Regions from separate parts of the Homo sapiens genome. Here regions 2 and 3 are each reported to be linked to region 1. The links are microRNA targets in miRTarBase. Many come from high-throughput screens and were not tested one by one. Region 1 holds a microRNA gene; each other region holds the end of a gene's coding sequence.
What was found. Region 1 holds the annotated microRNA hsa-miR-3167 (AGGAUUUCAGAAAUACUGGUGU, at 1,464-1,485, shown strand). A microRNA usually pairs through its seed, bases 2 to 8, with sites in the 3' UTR of a target mRNA and lowers its output. Matches are read on the target gene's strand: a 7mer-m8 pairs with bases 2 to 8, a 7mer-A1 pairs with bases 2 to 7 and ends in A, and an 8mer does both.

Region 2: miRTarBase lists ALG1 as a target of hsa-miR-3167. Seed matches in the 3' UTR shown: 7mer-m8 at 1,439-1,445.
Region 3: the mRNA of VPS4A is a reported target of hsa-miR-3167. Seed matches in the 3' UTR shown: 7mer-A1 at 614-620.

Annotation. Positions count from the first base shown.
Region 1 is chr11:126,986,606-126,989,952 of GRCh38, reverse strand. It overlaps MIR3167 (microRNA 3167), which reads left to right and starts at 1,411; the gene lies at 1,411-1,495. All of the region lies in intron 1 of KIRREL3 (kirre like nephrin family adhesion molecule 3), which reads left to right.
Region 2 is chr16:5,084,602-5,087,601 of GRCh38, reverse strand. It overlaps ALG1 (ALG1 chitobiosyldiphosphodolichol beta-mannosyltransferase), which reads right to left. Exons shown (of 13, transcript NM_019109.5): 13 at 223-2,852. The coding sequence ends at 2,721. It overlaps EEF2KMT (eukaryotic elongation factor 2 lysine methyltransferase), which reads left to right. Exons shown (of 8, transcript NM_201400.4): 8 at 1,870-3,000. The coding sequence ends at 1,970. Among named protein-coding and RNA genes, the nearest start is that of EEF2KMT, 12 kb to the left of the region's middle. RefSeq lists an enhancer at 2,462-3,000.
Region 3 is chr16:69,323,744-69,327,090 of GRCh38, forward strand. VPS4A (vacuolar protein sorting 4 homolog A) reads left to right here. Exons shown (of 11, transcript NM_013245.3): 11 at 465-3,196. The coding sequence ends at 566. It overlaps COG8 (component of oligomeric golgi complex 8), which reads right to left. Exons shown (of 6, transcript NM_032382.5): 6 at 2,685-3,347. It overlaps PDF (peptide deformylase, mitochondrial), which reads right to left. Exons shown (of 2, transcript NM_022341.2): 2 at 3,170-3,347. Among named protein-coding and RNA genes, the nearest start is that of PDF, 5.2 kb to the right of the region's middle.

The DNA.
Region 1 (3,347 bases):
TCATTATTCCTGATCTCCTGGGCAGGCTGTGGAGGTGCTACTCTGTTTTCACCTCTGGATGGTATTACTAATTTCCAACAACACCATTATAAAAAACCACCACGGGCCATGGCTGTTTGAACATCCTTCCAGGCAAGATAACTGGATCCTGGCCACAGGCCCTGGAAACAATGGCCTTCATGCTGCAGGAGAGACACCGGGGGAACCCTGTTGGCCCTAAGACTTCGTTCCCCTGTTGGCCCTAAGACTTCGTCATGCCTTTCTTTACCTCCAAGGGGATGGCGGCTCACCTTTTTTGCCACTTGATAATTGTGACGAGATGTGTCTGAGATCCCGAGTTGATCCACAGGCAGCGTGAACTAAGATAGCGGGAATAGAATGAAGGAAAGGTGCAGCCACCATGGGAACAATCCACTCCCTTGTCTGGTCTGCAGCCTGAGTGGTTGGTAGAGCTGGCGGTTTATGTTACCTTTGGCCTTTCATTCAGTTTTTCTGAAGTTGCTGGAGGGATTTTCTATACGGTGTGCTGAGACCCCAGCAGCTTCCCTCAGCTGACTCACCATCAGAGTCCCTTGCCGCTCTCTCTGCATCAGGGTGAGCTGCCACTGCCCCCTTCGTCCCCACAGTGCCAGCCTTTCTGGGCAGTGGAGTTGGGCTGAAGGCAGGATTGCTGTCTTCATTTTACTGATAGTTCTACTAGCAAATTCCAGGTGACTTCTTCAGCATCTCTTGTAGAAAAGAAAACTTTTTGCATAAGTTTTGCAAAACCTTACTTCAAACTGCAGAGTTGATGCTACAAGGGTAGAAGAGGAAACATAGAGCTGCATAGTTTGAGAATTTACTGAAAATAATGGGGACTGAGCTCCTCCTCAAATTAAAAGATGTTATACCAACGAGGTGTTTGACCTTGGCCCTGCTGTCCCCCGACCCCTTGATTTGGCCACTTTTTCCCTTTCTCCTTTCACCAAGAGCTGCGTTAGTGTTTTGGGATACCTTAATAGAAAGCTGAACTGAGGAGGGAGGAGAGTGGTGAGAAAAAAAAATCAAAACCTGTAATGGTTTCAGTGTGCTGGCCTCAGCATGTTTCTCTACCCCCGAAGCCTTGTGATTGCTGAATGGGGACCAGCCACGGGGAGATGGTACTGAGGCCTGTGGCCAGGCCCACTGCTGAGTTTTGCATGCATTCCCTTATTCCATCCCCTAGCAATCTAATAAAGTAGGGATCCTTAGACCCATTTGCCGATGAAAACTACTGAGGCTTAGACAGATTCGGTAACTTGCCTGAAGGTCATTCGACTGGAGAGTCAAAGACCTGCCAATCAAACACCCTTGTGCAGACCCCTTACAGCCCTTGCTGCTGCTCCATTCAGGAGCCACCTCCAGGCCTATGCCCACCTGTGCCCTCGACACGGCTGTGGAGGCACCAGTATTTCTGAAATTCTTTTTTCTGAAATTCTTCAGGAAGGATTTCAGAAATACTGGTGTCCCGACAGCCGTGTGACCATCAGCAAGCCACAGAAACCCCTGCCCTGGCCGGTGGGTCCCCTCCTTCATAGCTTGTAGGATTTGGGACGGAGAGCTGATAAAAATGGAAGAAAACCTCTTCCCCCAAACAAAAGCTGAGTAAGAATTTGAGAAGCTTTCCTCCATGGCTAGCGACTGCTCTCTGCCTCCACAACCCACTTCCAGTATAGCTTAACATTTTGAAAGCCAAATGCTGATTTCTTTAAAAGAATTCATCATCACCCAGCTTCCCTTCAGTGGATTAAGAAATAAATAAATAAATCCCATTCTGCTTAGGGAGAGTTGAGCCTTGTGGTAGCTGTGTGCTGGAAGAATGGAGCTACTCTACATAAAAAGACTTTCCAGAACTTCAAAACCCTCCTTTTCTGTCAAGTCTAGAATAGTAAAAATATCAGGAGATTACGTGTTTCTGAAATGATTAATAATGGTTATTAGGGGGAAATAAAAAGACTCTTAGAATGTAGGAGAGCCTGAGTGTCATAGAGCCTATGATTCTTTTCACTTTGGTCTCGGCTGGTACAACTTACCTTGTGTCAGAAATCATTTTAGAAGATGGCACATGTCTACCCAGGCCATGCTTAAAATTGTAATATTGGTTTAAGATAGACACTTATGATAAACTAGCAAAACATGAAAGTTCTTTGACGTTTTCAAAGCTCCTTTAGATCGAATCAGAGCAATACAGAGGAGGAATGCAAGGAAGATAGATCTCTGCATAGAATACTTCAAATGCCTTCTTTTTACTTCAGTGGGACATGCCGTCATATCAACAGAGCCTTGGCAGCTGATGCCTGGGTTCCAAATCCATATCAATGCTCCTTTCTCTGGGCATGAGCTTTGTTTTGGGTGTTCTCTTCATCAGATTGGGACAGAGGTTTTTGCAGAGAGAAATCCATACTTTACAGGTGAAAACAGCTGAATACTGGAACTGGTCAGAATCAAGACATACCAACCAGAAAATCTGAACACTTACCTCTCCTGTTTGTCTGTGAAAATAACAGGAAATCTACCTTTCACTCTTATTATCAACAGATATTCTAAGATCCATGCCATTGTATTCATGCCAAGGAAAGTTTGAAAATACATAGACGGTTGTATTTTTTAGTTAAATTGTCTTAGTCTTGTTCATTGTTGACTTTATGCGTACTATAGACTCTGCTAGATTTGCTCACTCACAATTGCAATGGAAAAGGAATCTTTGTGGGTCAGTGTATCCCCTTAATTCTAGGTGTAGACTCCCTTTGCGTGTTCCTGACAGGTAATTATCTCACATATCAAGGAAGTATTAGGGTCTTTCTATGGTTCCTGGGTTATCTGAGTTCGTAGATTCTCTATCACCGTGGTTCTTCAAGTGTGGTCTGCAGGTCAACTTGGAGATTGTTAGAAATCCCCATTTTTGGACCCCAGTCCAGACCTTCTACATCAGAAGGGTTTTGACCAGCAGCCTGTGTTATACCGAGCCCACCAGCTGCTCCTGAGGCCTGCTCAGCTTGGAGCACAGGTGCCATCAAGGCTGAGTCTTGCTTCCTTATGGTGTCCCCTCATTTTCACCTCCATGTGGACACTGCTGATAGTAAGTCTACAAGGGAGTCGAAAGTCACTTTCTAACCAGAGAATTTAAGGTGACTCGTGGGAGCTGCCTCTCATGTTTTCATGTTACATCAGGAATCGGGATCTGTCCTGGGCATAAGAAGCCAAACTTACGATAAGGTCATACCTATGATGTGGAACACAGCAGCTATGCCAATCCGTCACTGACATCATTGCCTTCCTCTCACAACTGGAAAGAAATCAAGAGTGCTTCCTTTCAGCAGGGCTTTCCT
Region 2 (3,000 bases), not on the chromosome of region 1:
GGTCTTGAACTCCTGACCTCAAGTGATCTGCCGCCTCAGCCTCCCAAAGTGTTAGGAATACGGGCGTGAGCTACTGCGCCCAACCCCATTTTTGTTTAAAAACTAATAATAATCACCCACACATGGTTATGAGTACCTATATTCCCAACTCCTCAGGAGGCTGACGCGGGAGGATGGCTTAAGCCCAGGAGTTTGTGGCCACCTTGAGCAACATAGCGAGACTTCATCTCAAAACAAAATTTATCACAATAATCATTTTCACATAAGTATACCTATAGGGGAAAACCTAGAATATACATATAGCAGTCTTGTCCAACTTGCGGCCCAACGCAAATCTGTAAACTTTCTTCAAACAGTACGAGGTTTTTTTGTGATTTTTTTTCTTTTAGCTCATCAGGTATTGCTAGTGTTAGTGTATTTTATGCGTGGCCCAAGGCGATTCTTCTTCTTCCAGTGTGGCACAGGGAGGCCAAAAGATTGGACATCCCTGATATACACATTAACAGGTGCCATCCTTGGATGGCAGGATTATAGAGATTTCTACACATTCATGTCTGTACTACTTCATTCTTATAAATACGCATTTTCCACTCGTAACAAAAAACTGTGATTGAAAATCGTCCCGGGTCACAGTGTCTCACGCCTGTAATCCCAACACTGTAAGAGGCTGAGGCTTTGGGAGGCTGAGGTGAGCAGATCACGGGAGGTCGAGTTCAAGACCAGCCTGGCCCACATGGTGAAACCCCATCTCTACTAAAAACACAAAAATTAGCCAGGCGTGGTGGTGCACGCCTATAGTCAAAGCTACTCGGGAGACTGAGGCAGGAGAATCACTTGAACCTGGGAGGCGTTGCAGTGAGCTGAGATTGTGCCACTGCACTCCAGCCTGGGGAACAGAGTAAAACTTCGTCTAAAAACAAATAATAAAAGAGGCTGAGGCAGGAGCATCACTTGAGGCCATGCGTTCAGGACCCCATCTCTACAAAATAAAAAAATTACTGGCATGGTGGCACGCACCTGTCATCCCAGCTACTCAGGAAGTGGGAGGATTGCTAGAGCCCAGGAGTCGAGGCTGTAGTGAGCAATGACTGTGCCACTGCACTCCAGCCTGGGTGACAGAACAAGATCATATCTCAAAACAAAAAAAAAGAATCATTCTGGCTAACGGCTCTTCAGACATCTGTGCTTATGAGAACAGCAGCCCCTTCTAAGCTGTGTGTGTGTGTGGGTGTGTGTGTGGTGCGTGTGGTTTTTTTTTTTTTTTTTTGAGACTTAGTCTCACCCTGTCACTCAGGCTGGAGTGCAGTGGCACAATCTCAGCTCACTGCAACCTCCACCTCCTGGGTTCAAGCAATTCTCCCACCTCAGCCTCCCAAGTAGCTGGGATTACAGGCACTCGCCATCATGCCTGGCTAATTTCTGTATTTTTGTAGAGATGGGATTTCACCATGTTGGCCAGGCTGGTCTCGAACTCCTGACCTCAAGTGATCCGCCCGCCTTGGCCTCCCAAAGTGTTGGGATTACAGGCATGAGCCACTGTGCCCGGCCGCTTTCTAAGCTTTGTGAAGAGTGGGTTGACTATTCAGATCTCTGCTTCTGTCCCGCTGTGCCAAGTGCTGGGGCAGACACAGGCAGAGAGTGGACAGCGGCACGGTGCCTGCTGCTAGCCATTTCTATGCAAAACCAGCTTTCTGGTCCCATCCTGGAGGCCAATTCTAGGCACCTGGGTGGGCCTGGGAACCTGTGAACCAAGTAAACTGACTTGGACACCCCCCTACCCCGCCAGGCCTGTCCTAGCAGCCCCACACAATACCCTCATGTCCTGTCCCCAAACACCGCCATCCTCAAACACATGTGCTCTGTTTCCAGGCCGGGCCGGGATCAGATGGGAAGTGGAACCTCGTCATGAGCAGAAACTGTTTCCCTACGAAGAGCACTTGGAGATGGCAATGCTGAATCTCACCCTGTAGGACTCACACACGACTCCAACGGGATTGTGAGAATCAAGTCACTCTCATGGGAAGAATTTTTATATGGGAAAGCGGATAAAACTTTCATTGGACTGGAATGTTTGGAGAATGTTAATTTCCAAATCAGGAACCACAAACTGCCCTCTAATAAGACATCGGCTATCTAAGCGTGTGGGTGCCCCCTTTCTGCCAGCAGTTCTGGTTCTTAAGAAAATCACCATAAATCAGACATGAAAATTCTGGCTCCAAAAATAGCATTTTCTTTGTGCAAATAAAAACGTGTGTATCAAGTATGATGTTCCCCCAACGTGGACACACTCAGTTCCTCACAAAGCCAAGCCCACTGCAGCTGCCACATCCCTGGGCTTACGGTGCAGCAGGTGCTTTTTTCAAGACAGGAATCAAAATGTTAGGAACACGGCAGAAAGGGGACACCTGGAGACCAAACGCAGGATGAGGAGTTCTGCAGAGGTCACAGGGAAGTCACAGAACAGTAATACGCTAGCAGGGGCATGGGGCGTGAAGAACAGAAGAAGAGAGGAAGCGTTTCCAAGCCTCCAGAGAAGAAATCAAGGCCAACCAAAGCTTCCCGGGTCACAGAACCAATTCTTTTACCAGGCAGTACCACTGCTGTCATTTCAGCTTCTGGCCACTGGGAGGTGCTGCTCGAAAGGGTTTGCCCTGAGACTCCAAGAAGAAGCTGCGGGAAGGACAGCAGGGGTCCTGGGGTTTTAGCCTCTGGCCCAGGAGTTATGTGTCCATAACCAAAGGGAGCACAGTCTGCACCCAGCTCTCATCCCATCGGAGCTGCTGCGACTCCCGCAGGTTCTTCCGGAACTGGTTTAGCTTGCCCGCAGGATCAGGAAAGTTTGAGAAAAGCATCTGCAAAAAAATAAAGAGCAGAGCTTACCTCATTGCCTGTCCCCACCCCATCCCAGGTCACCACCTGGCTGACCCCAGGTCCCCGACCCAACAACAACCCCTCCCAAGTCCCTAACTCCCTCACTTGGACTCGAGACCCTTCACACCC
Region 3 (3,347 bases), not on the chromosome of region 1:
GTTCAAGAGCAGCCTGGCCAACATAGTGAAACCCCGTCTCTGCTAAAAATACAAAAATCAGCCATGTGTGGTGGCACGTGCCTGTAGTCCCAGCTATTTGGGAGGCTGAGGCAGGAGAGTCACTTGAACCGAGGAGGTGGAGGTTGCGGTGAGCCGAGATCATGCCACTGCACTCCAGCCTGGGTGACAGACTCCGTCTCCAAAAAAAAAAAAAAAAAAAAAGAAAGCAAGTTCGTAAGGGGAGTTATGAGATGATGGAGCTTAGATTCTCAGACCAGGAGGAGGCCCATCTGAGCTGCCTCGAGAGGGAAGAGGGTCCCTGCCATAGGCAGATTCAAGCAGGCCTCTGGGGTGGCCTTGAAGGCAAACCTCTTCCCACCCTCAGCTGCGCCTGTTGTGTGCTGAGGGGAGGTTGGGGACCTGGAGCCTGGCTCCTGCTCAGGCACATACTGTTGCCTTCACAGTCGGACATGCTGCGGTCTCTGGCCACCACCCGGCCCACGGTGAATGCAGACGACCTCCTGAAAGTGAAGAAATTCTCAGAGGACTTTGGGCAAGAGAGTTAAAAGCTGCTTCACTTGGGCAATGGTGAAGGTGGGAGGTTGATTGGGGCAAATCCAGGCACTCCCCATGTCAACAGCCAGACAGGGCTCCAGGGCTTGTCCCAGTCAATACAGAGTTCCCTCTGCTGTCTGGCCGTCTGCCAGGGAGCCAGAAGGAAGGGCCTTGCAGCCACAGAGACACTCCACTGCCCTGGGGCACACAGTGGACACTGCTCTTCCTACTTCCTCCTCTCCTGGATGCTCATCAGCTCCTTCTGCCTCCCCCCCTTTTTTTTCCATCTTTTGTTCCCCTAAATTAATGCTGCTTGGATTTTCATCTTATTTATAAAGATAAAATCACCTGGAAGTGTCAAGGAGTGGGGCGGGGTGGCGGGGGAGAAGCAGCCGTGCTGCCAGGTCACCCAGACCTCCAGACAGCCGGCTAGCCCCACTGCCCGTTCCTTTTACGCCCAAGTTTTGCTCCTTGAGAGCAGATTGGCTGATGCCCCTGCAACCCCAGCCCAAGCTCTGCCTCAAAGACCGAGTGACATAAGCCATTCCCACCCTCCTAGGTTCACATCCAGGGCTGTGTCTTCCTTGGGGGAGGAGATGGTGTCGTTTAGATCAGGGTAAGGCAGTCAGGCGGGTGTTCACCACTGCCTTTTCTTCCTCTGAGCGTGAGAACACTGAACCCAGCCACTGCCCCTGGGTCCCTGTCCTGGAAATGGTCTAATAAATCCTTTTCCCTTCTTGAGCTACCCAAGTGATCTCATCTTTCCTTGACTCTTAACTGAGACTCTGAAGGGCCACCCTTGCTTCCAATTAAAAGACCCTCTGGTTTTCTGTCTCCTCTCTTTTCTAAAGCAGAGCAGGAAACAGAACACTGCAGTTCTTAGGCCTGTTCTCCAGTCAGGTGTGCAAGGCCTCCTCCCCTTAAGGCCTCAGAAGTTTGGCTGGGGATGTTTGTGGGATCCAGACAGTTCTTGCCGTTGTTCGGCCTACAGATCAGAGACTGCAAAGTGGGAGCCCTGCGTACCAGACCCGTCCTGCAGCTGTGTTTGTTTGGTTTGGTCTGCCGCTAACATTTAAAAGTCGAGAGTTGCTGGGCGCGGTGGCTCACGCCTGTAATCCCAGCACTTTGGGCCGCTAACATTTAAAAGTCGAGAGTTGCTGGGCGCGGTGGCTCACGCCTGTAATCCCAGCACTTTGGGAGGCCGACGCGGGCGGATCACAAGGTCAGGAAATCGAGAACATCCTGGCTAACACAGTGAAACCCCGTCTCACTAAAAATAAAAAAATTAGCCGGGCGTGGTGGTGGGCGCCTGCAGTCCCAGCTACTTGGGAGGCTGAGGCAGGAGAATGGCGTGAACCCGGGGGACGGAGCTTGCAGTGAGCCGAGATCGCGCCACTGCACTCCAGCCTGGGCGACAGAGCAAGACTCTGTCTCAAAAAAAAAAAAAAAGTCGAGAGTTGACATAAAAATTCAGAATTCTGACTTCTAGAAGATTAAATTAGGTAATGTTGGGCCTGCGTCCTCATGGGGCAGCCTGTCAGCGGCCACTAAGTAGAGGCTGCTCTGTACAGAAGGGGTCCCCCATCCCCACTCATCTGTGTTGCCTGCCCAGATAGCCCCATGGCCATTTCAGTTTGCGACCCCCAACAGACCAAGGACCCAGAGCTGGCAGCCCTGGACCCACGTCCGGCAGGCAGTGAAGCTGCAGAGGCTGTCCCACGTTTACCCCATGCATATAAACAGACCAAAGTCAAAGCACATTCACACAGAAAGACCTGGCCTAGTAAATGAAGCTTATAGCCTGCAAAGGGCTTTGTTCCAACCTTCCCTCTCCAAAACCCAGTACTGCTCCTCTACCTTTCAAACCTGGTTGGGCCAGAACTGATTACATGGCCAACTCTTGGCTCACACTGGGCTTGCACTGGGCCATTTCTTTGCTCTGGTTCAGAGCCTCTGCAGAAGTGAGCTAACTTTGGATCAGTAGCTCCAACACTTGGCTCCAGTGCTGGCAGGTTACCCCTCAACCATAGCAGCTGGGATCTTTGTGGCTTGGGGGTGCTTGTGTAAGTTCTTGGTTATGTGCCCTCAGCCACCAGGATATGAACCGTGTCTGCAGAGCTTCACTTTAGTGAGCTTACAAGTTTTTAAATTTTTACTTCTAGTTACATTTACTTGAATCAGAACGTTGTTTCCTCATTCCTACTGCTTAAACACCTTGACAAGTCCTAGGGGTTAACAAAGGTTAGCATGGCTATGGTCCATCCCTGTGCTCTAGTTAGAGCGTGAAGACACCTGACTTTCCAGTTGTCTCTCTCCATGACCAGCAACAGGAACCACTGACGCTGAACTTTGGACAGTGGCCTCAGACTCTGGCTGCCAGCACACAACCTGCCATCATCGATGTTAAACATGCTGACATGTGCAGAGGAGTTTCCTCCCTGAAATGCTCTGAAATTCACTTCTCTGCCTGGGGATTCTGTTATAAACCTTCTGCCTACATTGGCTTTCACTGTGGAAGTTGATTTCTAAAACTCTGATGAGCTCACAACGTTGACATGTATATGCGTTTTTTGTGAGTGCTTCCTGCTCAAAGTGGGAGAGATTTTACTGGAAATGCAATAAAGTTTGCATTTTATTGCTACCGATGCCCACCACAAAAGCGTTAACCTCAGAAAGCTATAAGAAGCATCAAAAGATTGCCATAGCCCCCTGTAAGAGCTTCTGAACATTGTCCAAATGAAAGGAGGCTCAGCTGAATTCTAATTTTCCTAAAGACCCATGTTTTTAGCATC